Linked DNA regions of Homo sapiens: all the other regions are linked to region 2. The links come from fine-mapping of genetic effects on gene expression. A gene starts in region 2. Each other region holds a variant in brackets. All regions are shown on one strand. Distances are from middle to middle. Region 1 has its middle 19 kb from the start of IFIT1B. Region 2 holds the start of IFIT5 (interferon induced protein with tetratricopeptide repeats 5). Region 3 overlaps SLC16A12 (solute carrier family 16 member 12).

What was found. PIP is the estimated chance that this variant, and not a neighbour inherited with it, causes the effect.
Region 1: its variant is the best candidate, but not a certain one, in a credible set for the expression of IFIT5 in sigmoid colon (GTEx, PIP 0.62).
Region 3: its variant is the best candidate, but not a certain one, in a credible set for the expression of IFIT5 in left ventricle (GTEx, PIP 0.83).

What each region holds. Positions count from the first base shown.
Region 1 is chr10:89,354,201-89,364,849 of GRCh38, reverse strand. It overlaps a transcript of LIPA not described here and the pseudogene IFIT6P. Among named protein-coding and RNA genes, the nearest start is that of IFIT1B, 19 kb to the left of the region's middle. The variant A/T (reference allele first, on the strand shown) is at 5,595.
Region 2 is chr10:89,409,322-89,416,803 of GRCh38, reverse strand. It overlaps IFIT5 (interferon induced protein with tetratricopeptide repeats 5), which reads right to left and starts at 2,236. Exons shown (of 2, transcript NM_012420.3): 1 at 2,001-2,236. The coding sequence starts at 2,005. It also overlaps a transcript of LIPA not described here. RefSeq lists enhancers at 1,190-1,259, 1,360-1,459, 2,070-2,379.
Region 3 is chr10:89,429,371-89,440,019 of GRCh38, reverse strand. SLC16A12 (solute carrier family 16 member 12) reads left to right here. Exons shown (of 8, transcript NM_213606.4): 6 at 837-1,416; 7 at 3,701-3,960; 8 at 6,694-9,721. The coding sequence ends at 6,956. Among named protein-coding and RNA genes, the nearest start is that of IFIT5, 20 kb to the right of the region's middle. The variant G/A (reference allele first, on the strand shown) is at 4,414.

The DNA.
Region 1 (10,649 bases), 54 kb after region 2:
TGTTATCTTGGTTAATTTTACTATAGATTTTTGGATACAGAGAAAGAGCAAAGAGTATATTACACACTACCTAGCACTACTTGTGCATCTCAAATAGGGGGACTTTTTTCACTTTCTCTTTTTGTGATGCAACTTAACTTCCCTTAGGTCAGAATGACTAATTATATATATACTATATATATACATATATATTATATGTATACATATATATGAATACTTTAGAACTATTTCGCTTTCAAGGACTGAGAACTTTCTTAAACAAAGGATTGGATTTGTTATAAAGCTATAATAATTTATATTATAAGGTATCTCAATAGTCTGAAAGTATAGGAGAGAGATGGGCCTTAAGAAGTGAAAATGGAGCTGAGATACTGTGGTGCACACAAGAATCTTTTCTCTCTTTCTGCCCATGTGCTTTGTTTGTAGATCTTCTTGTGGGTCAACATCTTTGCCCATATGAAAAAGTTGACTTCCTGTACTCCCTGAATATAAATCTCCTTTGAACAGCTGACCTAGTAGACTGAAAATGGAAGTTGTCAATTCCAATTGCAAATTCTCAGAAGTCTGATTGGTCTGGCAGGTGCCAGGTACCTAACACAAGACATATCAAGAGTGACAAAGGGGTGCAGTGATAAAGGAGAAGTGCTGATATTGCTGCCACAACCACGTGGATAGGTGTTCATTAGCCAAAAAGTGGGAGTTGAGCTGATGATGCGATGTGTGCCACCAAACAGTTTTATGTTGCTTCCTGTCATGCCTTTTTGAAAGCAGCGATCAGGGAAGATTTATCTGATATTTAGATTTAGATATGATAACATTTAACATCTCAAAAGACAGGGTTCAGGCCAGTAGCCCGTCTCAGGCTGTCTCATAGGACAGCACAGCTTCACTTTCTTTTCCCCTTTCAATGTGTGAAGGAGCACAATGAGATTCAAACTCTCCTCATCAGATTTAAGCAAATGAACTTGCCTGTTAGCCAATTCAGTAAAGCACTAAAATTTTTTTCCTCTAGCACTTGACTGAATTTCTATATTTAGCCACACCCGCCCCCCCTCGCTTTTTTTTTTTTTTTTTTGATGGAGTCTGGCTCTGTTGCCCAGGCTGGAGTACAGTGGCATGATCTTAGCTCACTGCAAGCTCCGCCTCTCGGGTTCACGCCATTCTCCTGCCTCAGCCTCCCGAGTAGCTGGGACAACAGGTGCCTGCCACCACACCTGGCTAATTTTTTGTATTTTTAGTAGAGACAGGGTTTCACCGTGTTAGCCAGGATGATCTCCATCTCCTCACCTTGTGATCCTCCCATCTTGGCCTCCCAAAGTGCTGGGATTACAGGCGAGAGCCACCGCGCCCAGCCCAGCTCTTTTTAATATTAGTCAATTGTGTTAGCTTCAGACTTCCCATGACATTCCTGAAAGGGGCCATAACGATAATAAATCTCTTGCAACAGCTTTTATTAATATCATGCAGGCTGAGTGCTTTCTGGTAAATGTCCTCAACTTTTTGGTGTTCACCTCCCTCTGCATACCTGTTGGCTAGGTCCACATAAACCATTGCAAATGTGGGCCTTTGCTCTACAGCAAATTCAACATGAGATATAACTAATCTTATTATTTTGTCTACAGTTTCTCTATCCTGCCTTTAGCTTTTTTTGTCTGTTTCCTGCAGCAAAGCCCTATCTGGTGATGCAGGAAGGCAGAAGTGGGTGTTCCCTGCAAGGCCATTTTTAAGAGCAGAAGAGCTTTATCTATATTGCCTCTTCTTTGATAAAACTGGGCTGCATATAGAAAAACATAGGTCTGTGAAGACATACTGATTAGAGCTTTTTCAGTGTGCTTTTCTCCTTCAGCTTCCTGTCCTTCATCCTGAAGCTTCAGGGCAAGGATAACCTTAATGTGTGCATCTTTTGGATTTAGACTGACAGCCCATTTTAGGGGGTGCAGAGAAAATGTCTCATTACTGTCTGTTGTGTTAAAACCGTCCAGGCAATAGGCAGTGATGACATACCCAGTGCTGAATTCAGGATTTTCAGGGCCCACCTCTAGAGCCTTTTCAAAGCAGGCCTTGGCCTGTTCATAATTCTTTCCTCCACACTTCGCCAAGGCCCATCCTTCCTCACAGTTCATCTCAGGACACTCCATTCTATAGCGGGAAGCATTTGCAAACTTCTTGCAAATGTTCTCTACCTTATCCAGGTAAGTCTGGGCTTCTGCCAGTCTGCCTATGTGGTGATACGCCCAGGCAAATTTGCCCCAGCCCAGGCAAAGTTGCCCCAGGTCACCTGCCCATGTGATGATACTGGTCACTCATGTCTGCTTGGTTGGTGTGTTCTCATTCAACTTCTTTCTCTAGTGCTTTCTCATTCTGGCCCTTCCAGTGTTTCACATAAGCTAGTATGTTGTGCATTCCCACACTGTACTTTGTGTCCACGAACTGGATCTCTTCCAAGACCCTGTTTTCTAAATCAGAAATTTCAAGGGCTTCAATTAGCAACCCCCATGTAAAGTGACATCTCAACTGCTCAAGCCTATCTTTGACTCCATGATAATCAGCATTTTTACTGTGAAAATAAACAGGAAGTATTTGCGTGATTTTCTGATGGAAATGGAATGCTATCTAATGAAAAGATAGGTAGAAACATTGTTAAATAGTTGGGCACAGTGGCTCACACCTGCAATCCTAGTACTTTGGGAGGCCAAGGTGGGCAGATAGCTTAAGCTTAGGAGTTCAAGATCTGCCTGGGCAACATGGCAAAACTCTAGCTCTACAAAAAATGCAAAAAAAATTTATCTGGGCATGGTGGCACACACCTGTAGTCCCAGCTACTCAGGGAGGCTGAGGTAGGAGGATTGCTTGAGCCCAGGAGGTTGAGGCTGCAGTGAGCTGTGATCATACCACTGCCCTCCAGCCAGGGTGACACACACAATGAGATCCTGTCTCAAAAAAAAAAAAAAAAAAAAAAAAAAAAAAAAAAAAAGGCAGGTGGAGGGTGGGGGGTGGATTTTTTTTTCCCCATAGCTGTTTTCCAGGAGCATAAGGCTTAGGTAAAGCTTAACATTGTCAACGTCATTCCATATTGCCAAGTGTTTGGTGCTGTCCCTGCAATATCCTAAGGAGGAACCATACTAGGCTGTGAAGCCTTAGTTAAAAATTATCAACATCATGATATCAGCAAATGCATTTTGTCTGCTTGAATACTGGCTGAAAGGGATTAAATCTGCCAGTGACTTAGATTAGTTGGAAAACTAATGCAGTTAGATAGGTTTTGAACTCCTCAATGCTATATGACACTTTCGTTTCTCAGGATGCCATAGCAGATGACATGCATCAAAAAAGCAATAATGCTGTCAGGAGAAATGAACCTGGGGCAAGGAGAAGCTCTTTCTCACCTTTCTCTAGGTTTCCAACTTGGTCCATTAAGATTTGAAAACAACTGCTTCTTTCCCCAAGGCAGAAATAGTGAAATAAACATTTCTAGTTTTATTCTTCCCCCTAAAACAAGACGGTGGGCAAAGTGACTTTTCTGAATAAACTCAGTGTCAGGCATGGTCTTCTCCTTTTTCTTACAAAGAATTATTTCTTAGAGTCATCAACATGCCAAAAGAGAATTGGTTAGGAGCAGCTTTTGAGCCAACTACTCCTTTATGCCCAGTCCTATCTATGACATATTGGAGGGTTGAATTGTGTCCACCAAAAAGATGCTCTGAAGTCCTAGCTCCCAGTACCTGTAAATGTGACCTTATTTAGAAATAGGGTCTTTGCAGATATAATCAAAGATGAGCACATTGGGAGGACGCTAACCCAATGTGACTGATGTCCTCATAAGGAGAGGAAATGAGACAGAGTCAGGCACACACGGAGGGAAGATATAAAAACACAAGGAAGGATGCCATGTGAAGAGAGAGCATGGCACCTAAGAGGAGGCAAGGAAGGATGCTGCGGGGAGTTTCAAAGGGCGCATGGCTCTGCTGATACCTTGATTTTAGGCTCTTGGGCTCCAAAACTGAGAGAGAACAAATTTCTGTGGTTTTAAGCCACCCAATTTGTGGTACTATGTTATGGCAGCCCTAGGAAATTAATACACAGAGAAAACATTGAAGCAGGAAAGATCATTGAGATTGACTGCTGTGATCTTAGGGAATCCCCATGTTTGATGGGGAACGAGCCAGGTGCAGTGGCTCATGCCTGGCTCATGCCTTGGGAGGCCGAGGCGGGTGGATCACCTGAGGTTGGGAGTTCGAGACCAGCCTGACCAACATGGAGAAAACCCATCTCTAGTAAAAATCCAATTCTTTTTAAACCATCACTCTTAGCCTCACATGTACCACTTCTAGTCTCTATGGTGCTTGTGTAAATTAGAAAAGAGTGCCCTTTTCTGTGAGTATATGTGTCCCTTGCCAGGACACTTATCTTGGTGAGCCAAATGTAGACTGGGTTTCATTCTCTTCCCTTACCCCTTTGGCTAATGAATAATCTGAACAATAATGCTTGGCTGCCTTGGCAACAAGCAGGAGAGGTTTTTCTTTTGTGTTGATTATGGGTGTGTCCTCCCCAACATGGGCCATCTTTTCCTCTCTAGATTGTGAGCCACAGGCACATTCTGGGGTGAAATGTTATTAAACAGTAGTTGTTACTCTCTAAATAGATGCTAGGCACTTAAAATCCTCCAGGTTCCTATTTCTTTAAAAACTGAGCAAATAAAGGGCAGTAAGATAGTTCATTCTCATATGTTTTATGATTAGGAAGCAGAGAGTCAGGGAACCTGGTTAACAACCCAATTCTGCCCCACTTAGTACATGTGTGAGTTTAAGTAATTAACTTCAATTTCCAAATTCTTCATTTGCAAAATGACCCAGTAAGAGTTATAATCATTCCTAGTTATAGAACTATAGTGAGAATGCTGAGGTAACGCAATAAGAGATCAAGGCAGAGTGAGCTAATTACCAAGCAGAACATAGAACTTAGGCATTAGCATTAGGGTTGGCATTATCATTGTGTGTGTGTGTGTTTGTGTGTGTGTGTGTGTGTGTGTGTGTGAGAGAGAGAGAGAGAGATAGATAGAGAGGGAGATCCAGGCCTTCAGTGGATGGGTGAGAGGAAGACGCCCATCAACCATTAGGTGACACGTGTTTTCCTATGTGAGCTCCCCTTTTGTCAAATTTTGGCATTTCTGGGAGGAGCACCCCACCTTGCCATGGTCTTGAGCCTCTGCGAATAGGAGCAGCTTGATGAGGGCTTCAGTCCAGCATAATCTAGAGGTTCTCCTTGAGGCCCTTCAGGTCAGAGGGCTCTGGACACACCTGAGCATTTTGCTGAAAAGCCTCTTGGGCAGGCTGGCTGCTAAGGCCCTGGGCAGGTCAACCTGGTTTCCTGGTCAACCCCATGTGTAGCACTAGGATTAACATGATTTCGTGACCAGGAATGCAGTTAACAAAAATAGGAACCTCTTAGTAGTGAATCTCTCTCACCAATATCCTATTCCTCAAATACTGCCCTACAGGGCATTTATTTTTATTTTTAATTAACTAATTCATCAATTTATTTATTTTATTGAGACATAATAGTTATATATATTTTGGGGTGCAACAATATAAAAC[A/T]TATGTGCCCCAAAATGTGTCCTCCCTCTCTAAAATATGCCTTAGGCAGACTTTCCAGATTAAGTTGGACTGAGGCCCACATCAAGCTTCCTCTATTCTCAGAGGCCCAAGATCACGGACGGGTTGGGCTGCTCCTCTCCAGCAGTGCCAAAAATGGACAAAAGGGCAGCTCACCTGAGAAAACCCCTGACACCTGCTGGCTGATGGGCATCCTCCTTTGCTCCATTCACTGAAAGAACTGATATTTTGATACATTTATACAGTGTGTAATCATCAAATCAGGGTAATTGGGATGTCCATCATCTCAATAATTTATTTTTTCTTTGTGTTGAGAGCATTCCAATTCTTCTAGCTATTTTGAAATATGCAATAACTTATAGCCACCCTACTGTACTATCGAACACTAGAAATTATTCCTTCTATTTAATGACATTTTTGTGCCCATTAACAAACCCCTCTTTATCTTCCCTCCCCTCTACCCTTCCCAGCCTTTGGTAACCAACATTCCACTCTCTATGTCCATGAGATCCACTTTGTTCTTAGTTCCCGCATATGATTGAGAATGTGCAATATTTGTCTTTCTGTGCCTAGCTTATTTCACTTAACATAATGACCTCCAGTTCTATCCATGTTGTTGCAAATGACAGGATTTCATTCTTTTTTATAGTTGAATAATATTCCACTGTGTCTATAAGCTACATTTTCTTTATTCATCCACTGATGGACACTTAGTTTGTTTTTATATCTTGGCTATTGTGAATGGTGCTCCAATGAACATGAGAATACAGATATCGCTTTGATAACTTGATGTCAATTTTTAAAAATATATATCCAGCAGTGGATCACATAATAAATCCATTTTCAGTTTTGGGGGGAAACGTCATACTGTTTTCCATAGTGGCTGTACTAATTTACATTCCCACCAACAGTATATAAGGTTCCCCATTCTCTGCATCCTCATCAGCATTCATTATTTTTGTTTTTTTGATAGTAGCCATTCTAACCAGGATGAGATGCTATCTCACTGTGGTTTTGATTCTGCAGGGCATTTAATGGCCTTCCTGGGACTGTGGCTCAGGCGGCCAGATTATCTTCTCACCACATGGAGGAACTAATAGAAAGTGGTCTCTGTCCTTCCTGCAGACCTCTTCGCAGCAGGCAGTTACAGGTATTTAAATGGTGGAAGATGCATCTGAGAATAGGGTCCTCTTTTTTTTTCTCAGTTATCCTTCTCCTGACACTATATCAGATGAAAAGATTCTAGCAAGTCAGTCAGTATAATGTTGAGAAGAAAATACTTTCTGCAACTTACCAGCACAAAACCAAACAGGAAAAGAGGAATGTGTACCTTTTGAATAAGATATACCTTAATTTTGGTTAGGTTTTATATTTCCTAACATCTGTTGAAAAGATAAATCTTATTTTAATGGTTATCATCACAACAAAACCCCAAGCATTGATGCTTTCAAATAAAAATTGAACATAGCTACCTTTAAAATTCTTTTATTTTACTACCTACCTTTGAGTGATCCATCTTAGCCTGAATAGATTAAAACTCACTCCTCCCATCATCCTGTCTCATTCAGCTCCTCTCAAACCTCAGGTCAGTTTTGTCTGGTTTGCAATTCTATGAACATCGCTTGTGATGTTTTCATTCGGTTAGAATTATGACACAAATGCAATGACTTTTACTGTTAACACAACTTTATTTTCTTTCTGGGTCTGTGTCTGTTAACTTAGTAAGAAAGCATAATAGAAGAGTTAGAAAGTTTGCCTTTCTTAGGAGGAGTCTGCAGGGAAATTTGCATTCTAGAAAAATACAGGAATTTAAAAATATGCTAGAAACAAAAGTCCAGGAGCACCAAGAGGTTGACCTCATAGTTTCTTGAGAGACACAGTTGCTACATAGTGCTTGGTTCCAGCTGAGAGGCTCCTCAGGTTTGTCCTGTGTCCTTTGGTGCTTCTTAGGCAAGTGAGGGGTTTAGATTCAGGGAGGATTTCCTGGTGATCTTGTTTCCCATGTAAATAGCACTGCTATGGTATAATACGAAATATCTCCTTAGCCTTTGTCCCTGGTTCCTGTCACAGAGCTTCTAAATTCCTTGGAATTTCCAACAGTGATAGGAAGCATGTTTTCTTATTCATAACAGACCCCTTTCAACCATGCCTGAGTTTATGTTAATGAAGTCACACTACTGGGGGCCCCTAGATAGTTCATTATGTGGGCTGGTTGCCAAAAAGACCAAGGCATGATTAGAGGGTTGGAACTTTCAGCCCCATCCCCCAACCTCTGGGGAGGGAAGAAGAGCTAGAAAGTGAGTTCAGTCACCAGTGGCCAATGATTCAATCAGTCATCAAAATCTTACCTATATATTGTGAACCTCCATAAAAACCCCTCAAGCAGCAATCCCCAACCTTTTTGGCACCAGGGACTGGTTTTGTGGAAGTCAGTTTTTCCACAGACTGGGCAGGGATGGTTTCAGGATGATTCAAGCACATTACATTTATTGTGCACTTTATTTCTATTATTATTACATTGTAATATAAACGAAATAATTATACAACTCACTATAATGTAGAATCAGTGGGAGCCCTGAGCTTGTTTTCCTGCAACTAGACGGTCCCATCTGGGGGTGATGGGAGACAGTGGCAGATCAGCAGGCATTAGATTCTCATAAGGAATGCGCAACCTAGGTTCATCGGATGCAGAGTTCACAATAGGGTTCGTGCTCTTTTGAGAATCTAATGCCTCTGTTGATCTGACAGGAGGCGGAACTCAGACAGTAATGTGAGTGATGGGGAATGGCTGTTAATACAGAGGAAGCTTTGATTGCTCGCCTGCTGCTCACCTCCTGCTGTATAGCCCAGTTCCTAACAGGCCTCGGACTACTACCAGTCTGTAGCCCAGGGATTGGGGACACCTGCTTTAAAGGATGGGGTTCTGAGAGGTTTTGAGTTGGTGAACACATTGAGGTGCTGGAAGAGTAGCATCCCAAGCAAAAACATGGAAGCTCCATGCCCACCCTTCCTCCCCCTACTCACCCCATACCTTGCCCTATGCAACTCTTCCATTTGGTTGTTCCTTAGTTGTGTTACAGGAAAGGGGTCCCAATACAGACTCAAAAAGGGGGTTCTTGGAGCTCACACAAGAAAGAAATCAGGGCAAGTCCACAGAGTAAAGTGAAAGCAAGTTTATTAAGAAAGTAAAGGAATAAAAGAAAGCCTACTCCATAGGCAGAGCAGCAGCATGGGCTTTTCAACTGTGTATACTTAAAGTTATTTCTTGATTATATGCTACACAGGGGATGGATTATTCATGAGTATTCTGGGAAAAAGGCAAGCAATTCACAGAATTGAGGATTCCTCCCACTTTTAGACCATATAGGTTAACTTCTGAATGTTGCCATGGCAAAATGCCATGGCGCTGATGGGAGTGTCTTTTAGCATGCTAATGCTAAATTATAATGCTAAATTTAGCATTATAATTAGCATATAATGAGCAGTGAGGATGACCAGAGGTCATTTTCATCACCATCTTGGTTTTGGCTGGCTTCTTTACCGCATCCTGTTTCATCAGCTGGGCCTTTTTGACCTGTATCTTGTCCTGACCTCCTATGTCATCCTATGACTAAGAATGCCTAAGCTCTTGGGAGTGCAGCCCAGTAGGTCTCAGCCTTATTTCACCCAGCCCCTATTCAAGATGGAGTTTCTCTGGTTCAAATGTCTCTAATAGTTGTATCCTTTATAATTTCAACTGAAGAATAACAAACTTCATAAATTTTGAAAGGAGAGCTTTATTTCTCATAAGGGGATTGCAGCCTTCAGGCTGAAACCATCTTTGCAAAAATTGTATCAGTGAGAAAATTATGACAGGGAATGAGATCTGAGCTAACTCACCAACCCCCATCTTGCCTTTCCCATAATTATTTCTGGGCTATTGGGTTGAGCTAACTTTGGAAGACATTAGATTATAGTTTAAATGGTAATAGGCTGTCCCCCAAACTCAACCACTTTTGTAAAGCTAATGAGAGTCCCTTAGGCTGTGGGGAGGAGCGGAGACTGAATCCTACTAGGGGGCAGACATAAAAGTTTGATAGCCGTTATTCCTGAGGTTAAACAATTCACAACTTCCCCAATTACTCCTGCAAATAACAACACTATTGTAGGACCCTAAAATTGGCCTTTTGACACATCTTTTCAGGTTTTTTGCATGTCTGATACCCATGGCTCCACCTGGACCCACCTGAATCCACCAATCCTCCTCCTGTGGCCCCATCCAGAAGCAATTCAGCATGCAGGAGGACAGCTTCAACTGTCTATGATTTTGTCTTTGCCCAACCAGTCAGCAGCAAGCCTAGCCACCTCCACACTTTGAAAACCTTCTAACATACACCGGGCATGGTGGTGCACACCTGTAATCCCAGCACTTTGGGAGGCCGAGGCAGGTGGATCACAAGGTCAGGAGTTCAAGACCAGCCTGGCCAAGACGGTGAAACCCCATGTCTACTAAAAATACAAAAATTAGCAGGGCGTGGTGGTGGGTGCCTGTAATTCCAGCTACTCGGGAGGCTGAAGCAGTAGAATTGCTTGAACCTGAGAGGCAGAGGTTGCATTGAGCCGAGATTGCACCACTGCACTCCAACTTGGGCGACACAGTCAGCCTCTGTCTCAGAAAAAACAAAAACAAGAACAAAACTTCTAACTTATGAGCTTTGAAGGAGAACGACTTGAATACGAACTCCATCTCCTACATGGCATGACTAGTCTTGTGTCTGTCAATGAAAAGAGTCAAACTCTAAAATATTTGAAGAGATTTATTCTGAGCCAAATATGAGTGACCAATGGCCCATGACATTGCCCTTAGGAGATCCTGAGGACATGTGCCCAAGGTAGGGCACAGCTTGGTTTTATACATTTTAGGAAGACAGGAGACATCAATCAGTACATGTAAGATGTACGTTGATTTGGTTCAGAAAGGTGGCACAACTCAAAGTGGGAGCTTCCAGGTGATAGGCGGATAAGAGACAAAAGGTTGCATTCTTTTGGATCTTTGAT
Region 2 (7,482 bases):
TTTCTCTAGTGTAATTGTACCAAAAATATGGGCAAGACATGCCATGTCCTTACAGCCTGCTTAAATCCACAACAACATGGCTTTACCAGCCCCCTGCCTAAAACAAACACCTGTTTTGAAGGTCTCTACCAGCCCAGCCCAAGGAGGATGAGGAGGGCTGCTCAGGTATTATGGATTTGGTTGTAAGATCTCAAAGGGACATTCAATCAGGTACTGACGTGGTTTGTCCAGGCTCTGGAATTTATGCACAACTGGACACCATGAGAATTTTTATTGTTTAAACTTTGTCTACTTAATTTTGTAACTTTGTCTTTGGGAAGCTAATAAGAGAGAAGCTATTGCATCAGAAGAGGTAACACGTATCTTTCGGTAATTCTGTTCTTCTGCTAGGAAGAAGCAGACTTTCATTGTCCTTGGGAGACAGTCCCCAATGGGGCTGAGCCCTTTTCCTCCCCATCCTGCATATATACGGTGCACGCCACCGTCTTTTTCTGTTTTTTGTTGTTGTTGTTGTTTTGTTGTTGTTGTTGTTGTCAAGCCCCTTCCTGATAGCACTCTCCTTTCTTACAAATGTTAGATGTGGCCAGGCGTTGTGGCTCACGCCTGTAATCCCAGCACTTTGGGAGGCTGAGGCGGGTGGACCACGAGGTCAGGAATTCGAGACCAGCCCGGTCAACATGGTGAAACCCGCGTCTCTACTAAAGATACAAAAAATTAGCCAGGCGTGGTGGCACACGCCTGTAATCCCAGCTACACGGGAAGCTGAGGCAGGGGAATGGCTTGAACCCGGGAGGCGGAGGTTGCAGTGAGCCGAGATGGAGCCATTACACTACAGCCTGGGTGACAGGGCGAGACTCCGTCTCAAAAATAAAGTTAGATGTGTGGGTGGCACTTAAACTTTTTTTTTAAACTTATAATGGGAATAATTAACATTTATTGTGCAAGTATTATGTGCTAAGCAGTCAACTGATAGGATTTATTACTGTCCTTTTCCACAGTCCCAAGAGATGGACACCATTAATTTTTACAAATAAGGAACAGACTCACAGAGTTTGAGAAACTTTGGGATCACTCAACTAGTAGGAGTTCAGTCCGGATTTAGAACAAGGGACTATCTGCTTTTAGAGCCCAAGACCTTAACATCTCATTCCTCAACTCATTAAATGCGGAAGGTTCACTAACCACGTGCAGGGCGGGGTGCTAGCCCCTGGGGATACAAAATGATCAAGAAAAGGACGCCATCATACTAAATCAGTAAAGGAAACAGATAAAGAAATCCTCATAAAACAGCGGATTGGGTGGGACGATAACAATCTGTGCTTGGTACAGAGGTAGCTCCTGGGAAGGGAAGAACTCAGACCCAGAAATCAGAAACGCAAACTGGCAGTGGCAGGCGAACCTGACGCCTGCAGGGCTGCGGCGAAACCGCGTATGCCACACCGAGGGAATGGCAGCTGGAAAGAGAGGCACGCGACAGGCCTAAGGAGACCCGTGGCACGTAGCAGCTGCCCCCGGAACAGCGCCTGGGGGCTCTGCAGGCGCTGACCAGTTTCCCGGAGGCGGCGGCCGCGGACCCAGCACGGTCACCGTCGCCGCTGCCGAGAAGAGCCGTCGGGTCGCGATGGGTGGACAGGCCTTCCGGGGGAGCGTCGCCCGGCACATACCCTGACAGTCCCGACCGCAGACGCCAGGGATGGGACAGGCTCCCGGGGAGCATCTCCTGTTCCTCCTCCCTGACCGGCCTTCTTAGGCGCTGGGGAGGGGCCGGACTCCCGAGAAGCGTCCACTCGGCCACCCTCCCCGGCAGGCCCGACTTCAGACGCCGCGCGCCGGGACAGAGCGCCCGGGGAGGGTCCCCAACGCAGATGCCCGGTTGCTGGGCGCGAGGGGCTCGGCCCCTGAAAAGGCCGCAGAACTGCGCTGGAAATGAATAAAAGCAGCCCGGTTTGAAACCAAGGCCGACGCAGGGCTTGGGAGGAGAGGCAAAGGAAAACCCTTACCTCATGATGGCAGCGCTCTGCAGGCCGTCCGGGCGGCGCAGTCCCTCGGATCGCTCTCTCCTCAGCACCGGGGACCGCGGGAAGCCGCGCGGTGGGCGTGCGCGTGCGCGTGCGCGCGCCAGGCCTCTGCAGCCCCTGGACTCGGCCGCGCGGCGTGTCTTTGTTAAAGGAGAGACCCCAGCCCCAGCAAGAACAGGAAACTGGAGATTGAATCAGATGCCGAGCGCTCAGAAACTGAAACTTAAGAAATCGAAACTAAACGTAAGCTTCAGAAACCGAAACTTAATAGAAGAGCTCAAGAGCCGCGGCCAGACGTTTGCGGAGTCCAGGGTCTTTCGGAGTTGAATTTGCAGCTGGGCTCCTTCACTTTGGTCTCGGCTTTTATCTGCCTCCCTGAGTACGCTGAGTTCGCATGCTGCCCGTGTAACTGTTTGTTTGTTTGTTTGTTTGTTTGAGATAGCGTCTCACTGTGTCACCCAGTCGTGATCTCAAGGGATGCGCCCGCCTCTGCCTCCCAAGGTGCTGGGATTACAGGCGGAAACTTAAGTCCCTGCTTCCACTCCAGTCTTTTGATTCAACAAGCAACACTGCAATGCTATACATCTATGCTGTTATTTCTGTTGGGTGTAAACTGAGAAATTTGGAGCTAAAATCTATATACATTTTAAGTTTTGACGGATATTGCCAAATAGCTTTAAAAATCCACTCTTACCCACAATTGTAGGAGACTGCTTCTCTTCCATACCTTCGCCAATGGTGCTTTGTAATAAGGACCCAATAAAGACAAGAGTGGTATTGGGGATCTAGGCAGAAAATGTCAAACACCCATACCTTAAACATTTTGTCCCCTTTGAATTCATTCAGCAAATATTGACAAACAACTGTAAGAGCCAGACTTTGTTCAAAGTACTGTCAATATAACAATAAAGAAAACAGACACGGGCCTTACCCTTATTGAGTTAATGTCTGTATTCAAAACCTCAATATCCTGTCCATAATTCATCTTTTGCATTGATTTTGGTTTTTTTTTTTTTTTTGAGACAGGGTCTCACTCTGTCACTCAGGTTGGAGTGCAGTGGTGAGATGACAGCTCACTGCAGCCTCAACCTTCATGGCTCAAGCGATCCTCCCACCTCAGCCTCCTGAGTGGCTGGGACTATATGCGTGCACCACTATGTCGGGCTAATTAATTTATTTTTTGTAGAGGCGGGGTTTTGCCATGTTGCCCAGGCTGGTCTCCAACACCTGGGCACAAATATTTTTCTAAACCTTAAATATTGTTCCGCCCATCGTGGCCTCCCAAAATGCTGGGATTACAGGCATGAGCCACTATGCTTGGCCTGATTTTGAATTTTTAAAAACATATTGCATTGAAATATTGTCTACCTTGATCACTGAGCTTCTGGCACCCCACCCCTCAAAACTTAGTGCCTGAAGCGAGTGCCTCATTTAAAGCAATCACTTCTAACAGTTGTACTGTCTTATACAGAAACTGCTGGTCACCTGTGGCTATTAAGAACCTGATTTTTAATTTAATATAAATTTAAAAACTGATAAGTTAATAGAAAACTTACATTTGGAATAACTTAGGTATACGAATCTGCTTTTTATAAGTTGCAAATTTTATGAACTCTAAATACAGAGCAAGTATTTCCAGTGATTATCCTCAGCAAACTAATGCAGGAACAGAAACCAAACACTGCATGTTCTCACTTGTAAGTGGGAGCTAAATGATGAGAACACACGGACACAGTGGGGAACAACACACACTGGGGCTTGTTGGAGTTGGGGGTGGTGGGAGGGAGAGCATCAAGAAGTATAGCTAAGTGATGCTGAGCTTAATACGTAGGTGATGGTGTGTCCGGAATTGGTTCCTTCCAGTAGGTTTTTGGTCTTGGTGACTTCAAGAATGAAGCTGCGGACTCTCGCTGTGAGTGCTACAGTTGTTAAAGATGGCGTGTCTGGAGTTTGTTCCTTTCGATGTTCAGATGTGTCTGGAGTTTCTTCCTTCTGGTGAGTTCGTGGTCTTGCTGACTTCAGGAGTGCAGCTGCAGACCTTCACAGTGAGTGTTACAGATCTTAAAGGTGGCGCGTCCGGAGTTGTTCGTTCCTCCCGGTGGGTTCGTGGTTTCACTGACTTCAGGAGTAAAGCCGTAGACCTTTGTGGTGAGTGTTACAGCTCATAAAGGCAGTGTGGACCCAAAGAGTGAGCAGCAGCAAGATTCGTTGCGAAGAGCGAAAGAACAAAACTTCCACGACGTGGAAGCAGACCCGAGCAGGTTGCCGCTGCTGGCTGGGGTGGCCTGCTTTTATTCCCTTATTTGGCTCCACCCATATCCTGCTGATTGGTCCATTTTACAGAGAGCTGATTGGTCCACTTTACAAAGTGCTGATTGGTCCATTTTACAGAGTGCTGATTGGTCCATTTTACAGAGTGCTGATTGGTCCATTTTGACAGAGTGCTGATTGGTGCGTTTACAAACTTTTAGCTACACACAGAGTGCTGATTGGTGCGTTTACAATCCTTTAGCTAGACAGAAAAGTTCTCTGAGTCCCCACCTGACCCAGAAGCCCAGCCAGCTTCACCTCTCAATCCCCCCTCTAAACAGGACACCCCAATTGCTGATGGGAATTTGGCTGATGACTGCTCTAGCTACTTTCTGCTGGATAGGGGCGAAGAAGGGGCCCTGTAGGTGTAGTGTCCTCCAGAGGGGAACTCTTTAGGCCAGTGGAAGGGCCAGCAGGTCAGTCCAGGGGTCCTCGGTAGAAGTTGTTAGTTGAACTCATTTGGGGTTCCATTTGTAAGACCATCTGTAGCTTGAGGGCCTCAATTCTAGAGGAAACAAATTTGACAAGAAGGTTAAAAACACAGGGCCCAAAGACAAGTAACAGCAAGATGGCTGCCACAGGACCTAGAAAGGGGAGAAGCCATGTTGCCCAACTCCAGAGGTTGGTATAAGAGTTTGAAAGGTGTTGTCTGATTTCAGAAGCCTTTTCCTGTAAACACCGGGTGGCATCTCGTGCTATCCCTGACTGGTTAGTGTAAAAACAACACTCTTCCCCTAAGAAGCTGCACAGTCCTCCTTTCTCAGCAGTGAGGAGGTCTAGGCCTTGGCGATTTTGGAGAGTCGCTGCTGCCAAAGAGTCTGTTTGGGATTGTAGAGTAAGGATAGATTTCATTATTTCATGCAAACTGTCTGAGAAATCCTTTGAGAGTGTATGGTAGTAGGATAATGCATGTTACACTGTTAACTTTTAGCAAACTTTACGTTAGTTGAAAACCTTGTAAGTTTGGGATTTCAATTATTCTTTGCTATTAGTAAGACCTCGTTCAGTCCATATTAACTTAGAATTGGTATAGATGGCTCCTTCCTGATTCTGTAAGTATTTTAAGGTTTGGCTGAGTGCAAACAGCTGACACATTTGAGCAGACCAATTATTAGGCAATTTTCCTAACACTGCTTCTACAAGAGTTTCCTTATTATTTACTGAATACCCATTGTGTTTTTTTTTTCCTTAATTGCCCAGGAGGAACCATCTATCCGTCCTGTCCTGAAGGGAGTTCCTCCTAGATCTGGTCAGACCTTTGTATGGGAATTAATTAAGATTTAGATCCCCTGTTAGGAAACCTGCTGGGTAAGGATTTTTGATAGGAAGGCTACTGGTTGTCAGTGGCCTCAGTGCTTTCAGGCTACGCCCTTGTTTACACTGACAGCAAGGTGGTATTGGAGTGTTATAGGGTTTCTGAGAAGACCTTCAGTTATCAATTATAGGTTTTAAATTTACCCTGGCTTTTAAAGGAATAGGGTACACTGTTTTTTCTTTACTACTTCTATCTCTCTCTTTGACTTCTTCGTCTCTCTCTTCCTCTCTCTGTCTCTCTCTCTCTGACTTTCTGTCTCTTTCTTGCTTTCCTTTCTGCTGGTGTTTCCCTGCCTCTGCCAGTGGCTTATGCTGCTGTTCTTCCCTCTCCTTCACCTTTTGATGGCTTCAGCAGTGTAAGACTGCCACCTCCTTGGGTTTTTGCACCGCGTGCAATAACTCCGTGGTTTCCCTGTGTTATTTAATGGGGGTTCCCCCAGAGGTTAGGAACTCCCTTTCTTTCCATATTGCAGCATGGGCATGTAGGATTAGATAAGCATGGTTGCTCTCTGTATACACATTTATTGCTTTTTCCTTTCCCAGTTCTAAGGCTCGGGTAAGTGCCACTAGTTCTCCTAACTGGGTGCTGGTCCCTGGGGGAAGAGGCTTACTTTCAAGTATGGTTACATCGCTAAATATGGCATAATCTGTCCTTTGTATCCCATTCTCCATAAATGAACTTCCATCGGTATATAGGTTAAGGTCAGGATTAGCTAAGGGGACTTCTAAGGGATCATCTCGGGCAGCATAAGTCTGGACTAATTTGTTGGCAGTCATGCTCAATTGGTTCCCCAACCTCTGGGAGAAAAGTGGCAGGGTTGAGGGCCACGCATATAGGTATTTGAAGCACTGGTCCCTCAAGGAGTAGCACCTGGTATCTAAGTAGGCAGTTGTCTGATAGCCATAAACTTCCTTTGGCACCTAGTATGCCATTTACATCATGAGTATCCAGACAGTGAGACCCTTTCCTTATATTATTTTGATAGCCTCTGACACTAAGATGGCCACTGCCACAACTACCCTTAAACAGTGAGGCCAGCCTTTTGCTACTATATCAGTTTCCTTACTTAGGTATGCCACTGGTCATGGGGTTGTCCCACGAGTCTGAGTAAGGACCCCAGGAGCTATTTCTGCTTTCTCTGTGATGTTTAAAGAAAAGTTTCATCCTTTGGGAAGGCTTAAGGCTAGAGCTTGAGTTTGTTTCTTCCAATGCCCAGACTTCAGGGTTGATTCCCCTCTCAAGTAGGGGACAACAAATGGGTAACTTATTCCTCATATTCGTTTAGATAATAGCTCCAGCTTTGGCTAATATATCCCTCCCTAATAAGGGTGTGGGACTTTCAGGCATAACAAGAAAGACATGTGAAAAGAGCAAAGTCTCCCAATTACATCTGAGGAGGTGGGAGAAACACCTGGTTACAGGCTGTCCCAGGATTCCTTGGATGGTAATGGAACTTGAGGACAGCTGTCCAGGACAGGAGATTAACACTGAGAAAGCTGCACCAGTGTCCAGGAGGAAGTCAATTTCCTGCCCCTCAATGGTTATACATACCTGGGGCTCAGTGAGAGTGATGACATGAGCTGGTGCTTGCCCCAGGCACCCTCAGTCCTGTTGTTGGATCATCTGGTTGGGGGCTTCTGTCCCAGAGAACCTTTGTCCTCTGGGGCAGTGTGCCTTCCAGTGATTGCTTTGGCATAGTGGACATGGGTGAGGGGGCAGCTTGTTTGGACAGTCTTTTTTAAAGCGTCCTTGTAAACCACACTGATAACAAGCCCTACCGGGTGATTGGCATGCTCCATTTTCTGTCCTCTCTGAACCACCAAGGTTTGTTTGTCTGAG
Region 3 (10,649 bases), 22 kb before region 2:
AGCTGCAACCTCTGTCTCCTGGGCTCAAGCCATCCTCCCCCTTCAGCCTCCTGAGTAGCTAAGACTACAGGTGCATGCCACCACACCTGGTTAATTTTTGTATTTTTTTTTGCAGAGATGGGGTTTTGCCATATTGCCCAGGCTGGTCTCAAACTCCTGAGCTCGAGTGATCTGCCTGCCTCAGCATCCCAAAGTGCTGGGATTACAGGCATGAGCCACTGCACCCAGCCCAAAAGTTGAAGGTCTCTAAAAACTTTCTAAAGTGTCAACATTTGTCTGCTGACCTTAAGAGATATTTTCACATATATGAAAATATACATTGCTATGTTCACATATAAAATTGGCATGATGTTTCCCAACTATGTAAAATTACCCTGGAATTTTCATAGTTGTACATGCTATTTGAATCCAAATTCCAGAGTGGTGCAGATTGTCAGTGTTGTGTCTTCATAGGCAGTGAAGCGTTTAGGGAATTGTCTGGATAATTTAAGTTAAAAAATGGAGGAAGTGATAAGTTTCTTTGGTTGGCATTATCCAGATTTTCTAGTGAATTCCAATTTAGTTTGTGTAATTATTTTTATGTTCTTCATTTAATTTTGTTTATGAAGTCATATTTCCTTAAGGGTGTTCTCCCTAAAAAGAAAGTCATATATATTCTACATTTTCCAAATTGTGAATGACTGGTGAGGGGAGACTCATTTTAAGCTTGGTGTAAAAAGCAGCTTTAAAAGGGTTTAATGAGAGGTCAGATTCTCTTTAATATAAATCATTGTATTCTGAGATATCATTGGCTGTTTATGGTACTTCAGCACTCATAGAGTTCTCTTTATCCTCAGGTCTTGGATTTGCACTTTGTTACTCTCCAGCTATTGCCATGGTTGGCAAGTACTTCAGCAGACGGAAAGCCCTTGCTTATGGTATCGCCATGTCAGGAAGTGGCATTGGCACCTTCATCCTGGCTCCTGTGGTTCAGCTCCTTATTGAACAGTTTTCCTGGCGGGGAGCCTTACTCATTCTTGGGGGCTTTGTCTTGAATCTCTGTGTATGTGGTGCCTTGATGAGGCCAATTACTCTTAAAGAGGACCACACAACTCCAGAGCAGAACCATGTGTGTAGAACTCAGAAAGAAGACATTAAGCGGGTGTCTCCCTATTCATCTTTGACCAAAGAATGGGCACAGACTTGCCTCTGTTGCTGTTTGCAGCAAGAGTACAGTTTTTTACTCATGTCAGACTTTGTTGTGTTAGCCGTCTCCGTTCTGTTTATGGCTTATGGCTGCAGCCCTCTCTTTGTGTACTTGGTGCCTTATGCTTTGAGTGTTGGAGTGAGTCATCAGCAAGCTGCTTTTCTTATGTCCATACTTGGAGTGATTGACATTATTGGCAATATCACATTTGGATGGCTGACCGACAGAAGGTAAAATTCATGAAACCACAATTGGTTCCCCACCAGGGGACTTTAAGCCTTGAGTTTCTCCTCAGCCCCTTACCCTGTGGAGTACCTAGGTCTGAATAATGTTAACAAGTCTGCAGTATCTGAAGGCATCTCCCTTGCTGGTACTTCTAGATCAGAGGTTGGCAAAATTTTCTGTAAAGGAACAGATAGTAAACATTTTTGGCTTTGTAGGCCAAGTGTTCATCATAACTACCCAACTCTGCTATTATAGTACAAAACAGCCACAGACAATATGTAAACAAAAGAGAGTGGCTACGTTCCAATAAGACTTTATGCACACTGAAATGTGAATTTCTCTTATAATTTTCATGTGTCACAAAATATTGTTCTTTTGATTTTTTCCAACCATTTTTAAACGGAAAAACCGTTCTTAATTCACAGGTAGTACAAAAAGATGTCATGGGCCAGATGTGTCTAAATTGCAGAAGCCTAGGGTAACTACAAGTTCTGGCGGTAGATTTAATTCCATCCCAAGACAAGTCAGTCCTCAAGCAAGACAACTTTTGGCTGGGTGTGGTGGTGTTAGTTTCTTTTGAACCAGTCCTGACTGGCAATGGAAAAAGGAGCAGAATTCAGTTTAGGCAGGAGGGCCAGGTGCAATGATAACACATTGTCTGTAGCCACATATTCATGTTTGACAATGCAAATTGCAAGTAATTTCCTTGTAATTGCAGGCTTAGAAACCAAAGTTATAAGAAATCTACCAAGTAATTTCTTCAGCAAATGCTCATCTGTTTGGACTGAAGAGTGCAGGCTACTCATATTCTCCTAAATGATGAACCATTCACACTTGAGATATGACCTGCAGGGCTAATACCATCATGTAGCTTCTCACAAATTATGTTTTTGGTAATTAATCAGGATCCAACTGCCATTCTCCAGTGTTATGAATATGATATTTAGTATTGATTCCACATTTTTAATGGTTAAAGAAGAAGTGGAAGAGCAAAGATTACCTATTTTCACAATCAAATAACTCAGCAAGAAGCAGCCAGGTGTAGGTCTAATGGAGGCATCTCTACTCTGAGGCATACTAGACCTAAGTTCTTGCACTGGCTTTGCTCCTTATTAACCCTGTGACCTACAGAAAGTCACCTAACCCTCAGATCCACAATGATCTCTATCTGTAAAATGAGCCAGTGCAATATTTGCCTGTTGACCTTATACTATTTTGTGATGTTCAAATGAGGCTGTGAGTAGAAAAATGTTTGTAAAGCATAAGCTGTTGGAGCTGACATTATACAGATTCTTTGAAATTATTGGTATCATAAATGGGTTTGGAGTTATCAGGAAAATTAATGGGAATACCACTTGGGAGATCTTGAAATATATTAGACTTCATCCTAGTCCAAGACCTCCATCATCTCTGGCAAATCATTTTAATGTCTTTGTATTACAGTTTCCCCTTTGTGTAACCACTTGGGTTATTGAGTATTTATGATCTATGACATGCCAGATACCAATGGATAACATACCTAAAAGTATCTAATAAGGTAGACTGCTAGGAAAATTACCCTTCTGATCCTTTACATCAAGCTTGTCCAACCTGTGGCACATGGGCTGCCTGTGGCCTGGGATGGCTTTGAATGTGGTCCAACACAAATTTGTAAACTTTCTTACAACATTTTGAGATTTATGCACTCTTTCTTTTTCTTTCTTTCTTTCTTTCTTTCTTTCTTTCTTTCTTTCTTTCTTTTTCTTTATTTCTTTCTTTTCTTTCTTTCTCCTTATTTCCTTCCTTCCTTCCTTCCTTCCTTCCTCCTTTCCTTTCCTTTCTTTCTTTTTTTCATCAGCTATCATTAGTGTTAGTTTATTTTATGTGTGGCCCAAGACAATTCTTCTTCTTCCAATGTGGCCCAGGGAAGCCAAAAGATTGGAGACCCCATTTTACATTTTATTTCTATTTTATTTCACGACTAATTTCAGAGTAACCCTGTGAGATAAGTAACCTTTCCATTTTATAGCTAAAGAAATTGAGTTAGGCAGGCAGTGGGTGGCAGGACTAGTTTTAATATTCTACCTTTCTAATTTTGAAGTATATATTCTTTCTACCACACCATGCTTCCTGGAGAGATGAATTCTTGCATTTGCAAAAAAGAAAGATAGGAAGACAGCATACATAACACACAATGGGAAAGCCATCTCTGTAAATAACTGCAATGCTTACTGCTGCATAGCCGTGGCTCTAAAGCTCTTTTACAGAATGTGTACCTCCTGCACTTATTCTTGTTCTTCAAATCTACAGGTGTCTGAAGAATTACCAGTATGTTTGCTACCTCTTTGCCGTGGGAATGGATGGGCTCTGCTATCTCTGCCTCCCAATGCTTCAAAGTCTCCCTCTGCTCGTGCCTTTCTCTTGTACCTTTGGCTACTTTGATGGTGCCTATGTGACTTTGATCCCAGTAGTGACCACAGAGATAGTGGGGACCACCTCTTTGTCATCAGCGCTTGGTGTGGTATACTTCCTTCACGCAGTGCCATACTTGGTGAGCCCACCCATCGCAGGTAAGTTTCCAGAGAGAAACCCCAACCACCTTTTCTCTTTGGCATATTGATGTGAAAACAGCAAACCCACATGCAGTCAATGAGAAGGACTGTCAAGAGAGTTGGGGAAGAGTGAAAGAGAAAAGGGATATAAGAGCCCCCAAAACCATCATGGTCCCACCTACATCCTTGTTTTATAATCTTCTTCCAACCAAGTAAGAACCTTAGCCTACCTGGAAAGAGTAAGTCCCAAATTAGGGTCTTGATTCCTTTCCATATTAATGATGGGAGCAGGGGGATGGAGCAGTTGTTCAGCCTTATAAATAAGTAGGGTGCATTCAGAGGGAAGTCTCAGGGGAGAACAGGATTCCAACAGGGGGCAGTGGGTGATGAGGCTGAAATTATAAACGCCAGTGTCATAGTGGAGTGTTTTGGGTGCCAGACAGAGGAACTGGGCTCTATTCTTCAGAGACT[G/A]TGGATAGTATTAAAGTTTTTATGTAAAAGGATAATATGGTAAAGTATATATGTTAGAAAATGTGATCTAGCAATTGATCTAGTAACTTAGGAGAGAGGTAGCTAAGATTCCATTCTAATAGTTTAGGAGGCAGCTGATAAACGCCTGAGCTAGGGCTGCTGCAGCAGAAATAAAGATGAGCTCTGGGGGCAAGGAAGAAGTTTTCAAAACAAAATTCAGCAGAATTTAGCATACAGAGGTGAATGAGAGAAAGAAGTCAAGGATGACTTAGAAAATAATGTCATGGTTGAGAAAATAAGGAAATTCGAGAAAGTGGCTTTGCCTGAAAAATAATGAATATGGTTTTTAGATATGTTGAGATTTCTGAAATATACAGGTAAAAATGCTCAATAGAGCTGTTTAAAGATGAAATATGAGCTTTAGTGGATGGCCTGGTTTATATATAGATTTGGGAATCATCATATAAAGCACATAGAATGTTTTATAAACTCTAAAATGCTATAGAGTGAAGCATGATTAAACAATTTGACAAATATTTATTGTATGCATTAAACAAGTAATTCAACAAATACATATTGCATGTGTAACTAGCATTGTGTTTATCATGCTGGAGAGACAGGAGTAAACAGGTCAGAAGCTGTTTCTCCTTCCTAAAGCATGTGGTCTACACCACCTGCATCAGAGTCTCCTAGGGACCTTGTTAAAAATGCAGATTCCTTGACACTCCCACCTGTGATCTGAATGTTGAGGATGAGTTCCAGAAATCTGCATTTTCAACCAGCTTTGTTGTGATGCTCATGCGAGGTAAATATTGAGAATGACTGTTCCATATTATTATCTGCCTAAATTAAAACTGAGAGAGTGAACAAGTTCTCTGAAGACAGGCAAAAGAGAAATAACCCAAAACTTTGCCTAGAAAGAAGGCAGGAATTTTTTTGAGGAAGGCAGAGTTTCTGCTATTAGCTATTATTGTGAATAGACAGTTTCAGGCTATTTCCAAATCCAGCAATTGGGGTGGAATAAAAACAGCAAACTAGGGGAAATTGTGGCCGCTTGAGTGGTGCAGATGACAAAACCCTGTTCAGTTTGAACTCCATGATACAGATCTTTATGTTTAATGCTCCATTTTTGAAAACTGCCCCCAAAATATTCCCACATCCTCCTTTCATAGCTTATTTTAGTGCTCACCAACCTTTAGAAACAGTGTCATTCTATCAAAGGTCACAGGACACAAATGAAATTGGGATTCAGTTCGTGGCCTTCATTGGCAAATCAGACATGATACTCATTACTGGAAATTCGAGGATTAATTCTTATTGTATCATTTTCTTATTTATTTACCTTTCAAATGACAACTGTGTACTCAGTCTTTTTTGTTTGGTGCTATAGAATTGCACAAGTAAATCAAACAATAACTAAAATATTTGAGAGCAGTTTAAATTCAGGAAATTTTGTGGGGCTTATAACAACTTCTACATGCTATTTTTGACGAATGGATCTGAAGTGGGTAAGAGAAGAAATCATATACTTCTCTGGTGGGTTTTCTTGGCAGATAAGGAAAGTTTGAAGGAATTTAAAAAAACCTTTGTTAATTATAAAATAATTGCCTGACGAAGTATAATGTTATTCCACTGGTTTTCTGTCATTGTGGACCCTATTTTGCATATCATATGCCCGGTTTTCCTCAAAATTTAGAGCTGAGATAGATATTGAGATTAATTTGTTGCAACAAGAGATAAAGAAAAAAAAGCTAGTTTGCATTTGCAACTGCTAAAATAGCTGAAAGTTCTGATTTTCAAACTGGATAGAGTACAATGACTGAATCCAGTTGAAAATGTGATACTGCTTTGAAGCATGTCATGTTACTCAAAACAGTGTATGGGTGCTGTGAATACTACTGGCATTTTGTACAAATATGTTCTCTTAACACCCTAGGTAAATTATTCCAACCTTAATAATTTAAATGATGCTATTTTTATCTTTTTACCAGATTTCATGGGGTTAATAGTAACTAATATTTACGTTGTGACTACTAAGTACATGATGCTTTTCCAAGCACTTTACAGAACAACAATCAATTCACTCTAGAAGTTTTCCTGGAAAACAGAATGTATTTTTCAGTTGCTGCACAATATTTTTAGGTGACCTCTTTTTGTTTCAAAGTTACAATTGGTGGTGCTATCGATCTATTATTATCCTTACAAATCATTAGAATTTGAGAGTGGGTAAGCAATTGAATTTTCAACTCAAAAATAAAATTTTGCTGTTGTTTGTTACAGGACGGCTGGTAGATACCACCGGCAGCTACACTGCAGCATTCCTCCTCTGTGGATTTTCAATGATATTTAGTTCTGTGTTGCTTGGCTTTGCTAGACTTATAAAGAGAATGAGAAAAACCCAGTTGCAGTTCATTGCCAAAGAATCTGATCCTAAGCTGCAGCTATGGACCAATGGATCAGTGGCTTATTCTGTGGCAAGAGAATTAGATCAGAAACATGGGGAGCCTGTGGCTACAGCAGTGCCTGGCTACAGCCTCACATGACCAAAGGCCTTGAGCCCCAGAATCTTCAGGTTTGAGAGAGGTGGGGCCACCAGATTCTTCATGTTTCTGAAACTTTTTATTTTGGCAGAAGGATTGCCTTCCAAGGAAATTATTATTATTGTTTTGTTAACATATTAATATTTATAAGGGAAAACAGCACATAATAAGGAAAGCTGGACTAGCCCAGAGCCTTCTCATTTGGGATTTGTGCTCATAACTGAACTCGTATCTTTTGGTCAATGGGCATAGCTCTGTAAGAAATGTAAGGACACAGCTGATATAATTAGCTGTAATTAGGGATAATTTCAAAGCATAACCAAAGCAGATGACACTGGGCAGCAGCTTTGTTCCAGTCTCAGGCCCTTCATGTTCCCTCCTCAGAAAGAAAATGGAAACATTAACGTGTAGCTTTGCTTACCTTGTTCTGGTTAGAGAAGGGAGGTCAGCTTGGGTGTGGTGGTGAAGAGTGAAGATGCCATACTTTTTCATGGTGGAGTTTCTCATTAGGGTTTTACTTGGGATTGTTAAAGAATACTTGAGATTCTTCAAAAAGTGGTGATTAATATAGAAAGAAACTCTTATTTTTTTTTTCTCTTAGTCTTCCAGCCAGCCCTTGCCTCTGCCCAAGGGTAGACACCACTATGAGAATCCAAATAATCATGGAATGCCATGGTTGGAATAGATCTTAAAGGGCATCTGGTAAGATCCATTTGAAATTGTCCACTGGAAACCGAAAGCTCTTTTCCTAAGACTGGGTTCCAGGCTCTCACATTTGTTACCATCACATATAATACTTACTCTAAATTTAGCAGAACACACTTAGTCACAAGGACAACCTCTCAATCTTACCTGAAATGTCAACAACACCAAAACTTCCCGTCTTTTACCTTCAGAGAAGAAGCTCTTACTTAGACTGCAGACGCATTCCTGTTAGGTTGGAAAAATGTTGGCAGTATTCCAATTGGGCAGGAACTGAATTCTTGAATCAGCAGGTCTCTGGTGAGAGTTTTCTTTGCAGATCAGACATTTAGTTTTATCATTACCCAAAAGAGGATTGGAGGGAGTCAGTTGTCTGAAAAATATTATCCTAGAGATATTCTAAAGGTGAGATTCCTTTCTCCCTGTGTTAATTCTTGTTCCACTATCCACTGCTCTTCATCTCTTTATAGATAATAATTAGAAATCTACTCATTGGATTATAAGTTTATTCATTCTCAAATACTCCACTTTTCTATGGTTTGGGATAATTTCTGAGTCTTCAGATTGAAGAGGGAAGGCATGGAGGGAAGAAAAAGTCCAGATCCCCCAGCTTGTTTCCAACCATTTTAAGTCCAAAGAATTATAATCCTGAATCTCACAGTGTGTCACACCTGTAATAGGAGTAAATTATGCAATCAATTTTAATTACCAGGAGTTTAAAATCCAAATGTCAAGGAACTGTTTTGACCCTGAAGGCTATTTAATCCACTGTCCCCTACAAGGCCTCACAAGTGCTGGGGGAAAAAAAACAGCAATGAGGATGATCCTGAGTTAATGTGTATGCTCCGCAAGAGAGCTTGCCTATACCTTGATTATTTCATAAAATCACATGTTAATACATTGCTTTCAGAATGAAATACTGACTTGATCTGATAGGAGAAAATGGTAATATTTCATAGTTGTTTTCCAAAGACAAATTTAAATGTTGTCTGTTATCTCCTTACTTAGTTTAAGAATTTAGTTTTGAACCCCATTGACTTTGTCATTTGCAATTTTAAAAATATTTGGGACTGGGCATGGTCGCTCACGCCTGTAATCCCAGCACTTTGGGAGGCTGAGGCGGGTGGATCATGAGGTCAGGAGATCAAGACCATCCTGGCTAACATCGTGAAACTCCGTCTCTACTAAAAATGCAAAAAATTAGCCAGGCGTGGTGGCGGGCGCCTGTAGTCCCAGCTACTCATGAGGCTGAGGCCGGACAATCGCTTGAACCCAGGAGGTGGAGGTTGCAGTGAGCCAAAATCATGCCACTGCACTCCACCCTGGGCGACAGAGCAAGACTCCATCTCAAAAAAAAAAAATTGGAAGGTATCTGTAAAATGTCAAAGTTAAGATGAAGTTATATCTGTTTGGAATAGCACTTTGCCCTAAATATCATTTCTTGAATTTTCAAGCCTAAAGATGTTTAAAAATATGAATAGTTACAAATATTCTTATACATATTTTTTATCATGATCACAACAAAATTTTGTTTATGTGGTTCTGCAATATAATTTCTGTGAAGTATTACAAGTATTTATGAAAAATAAGCATAGTGATCAGAAATTTTAAAGATTTTGTATAAAAACATTTGGGAGATTTGACTTTATACATGCATAGATTTGCATTTTACTTTCCCTTTTGAGGCAGCATTTTTAGAAAATCAGTAAGAAAAATGTACATCTTAAGGTCTACTATTTTACATTTCTACACAGAATTTTAGTGTTAATGTTCCATGTGTCTATACTGTTTATTTCAAAACTGAGAAATTCATGGGAATGATGTATTTTGTGGAATCAAGAACAAAATTATAGTGGGATAATTTTACATCTTAAATATTTCTTTCTACTACTGTAAGCTCTACTTTGGAATTATCTGAGTAGAAAATCAGAAGACATTATCTAACTTTGTAGATACACTGTATGATTGGGCTTTTTGTTCAGATTGTAATTTCATTAATAGATGAAATATTTATGCTAATATTTTCTTATTTCAAAAGCAAAATAAAATGAATTTATTGTCCTGTGTTTGGAAAGACATTTTTCCCTCGGACAAGAGGTTTGGACTGGATGGTGAGTGGGCCTGTCTGGATCATGCTAAGATGTGGTCAGCATTTTAAGATGTGTTAAATAATCAAATGATTTACAAAAACCAGAAGTCTTTATTGAGTTCTTCCAATGTGTGAGCTATTATGCCAGGCACTTCCTATGCATTGTCATTGTCGAATTTAATCCCCATAGTGACCTCTATTATTATCATTTTGTAGATGTGGAAACTGAGGCACCAGTTCCCACAGCTCAGTATCCTCTAGTGTGAAATCCTGTAAAACTGGGATGCTGCTGATGCTGAAGCCCTGTGTCCTTCCCCTGTGCCTACTTGGATTATCTTATGTGGGTTCAAGAAGCTGTTGGGAAACCGACGCTCCCTTGGACAGATAAAATCCTTTGGATTATGCTTCAGTCTTCTAATCAATATTGAAGGAAGATTCTAGATTGGAGATTTCCAAGAGTTTTCCCAAGAGGATCTATCAAAACCACTACTTTCAGGCTCAGTGGTTTAATTTGCTGTTGATTGATCCAGGCTTCTTTTGGGGAGCATTTAGGGTTGAGGGGGTGAATTGGGGAGCATATTTTGTCCCAAAAGTGAGCTAGTTCCACTGTCTGCTTTCCACATTACCAAAGTCAGGCTTTCTCAGTTAGGAGTTGAGTTCTTTTTGAATTGCCTTCACCACTGCCAGTGATAATGAAAATGGTAATGTCTATTTGACACTCCCCTTCCTGGTCCCAGTAGGTCTAATTCTGAAATTGTTTACTGAAATGAAATAGTACAAATTCAGGGTGGATATCTGAGTTTCTTTTCTCACACTTGAAAGTTTGAGTAAAAAAAAAAAAAAGTTTTTTTTTTGTTTTTTTTTTTAACTCCGTCAAGCAATAGATTTTTATATCTGTTGCCAGC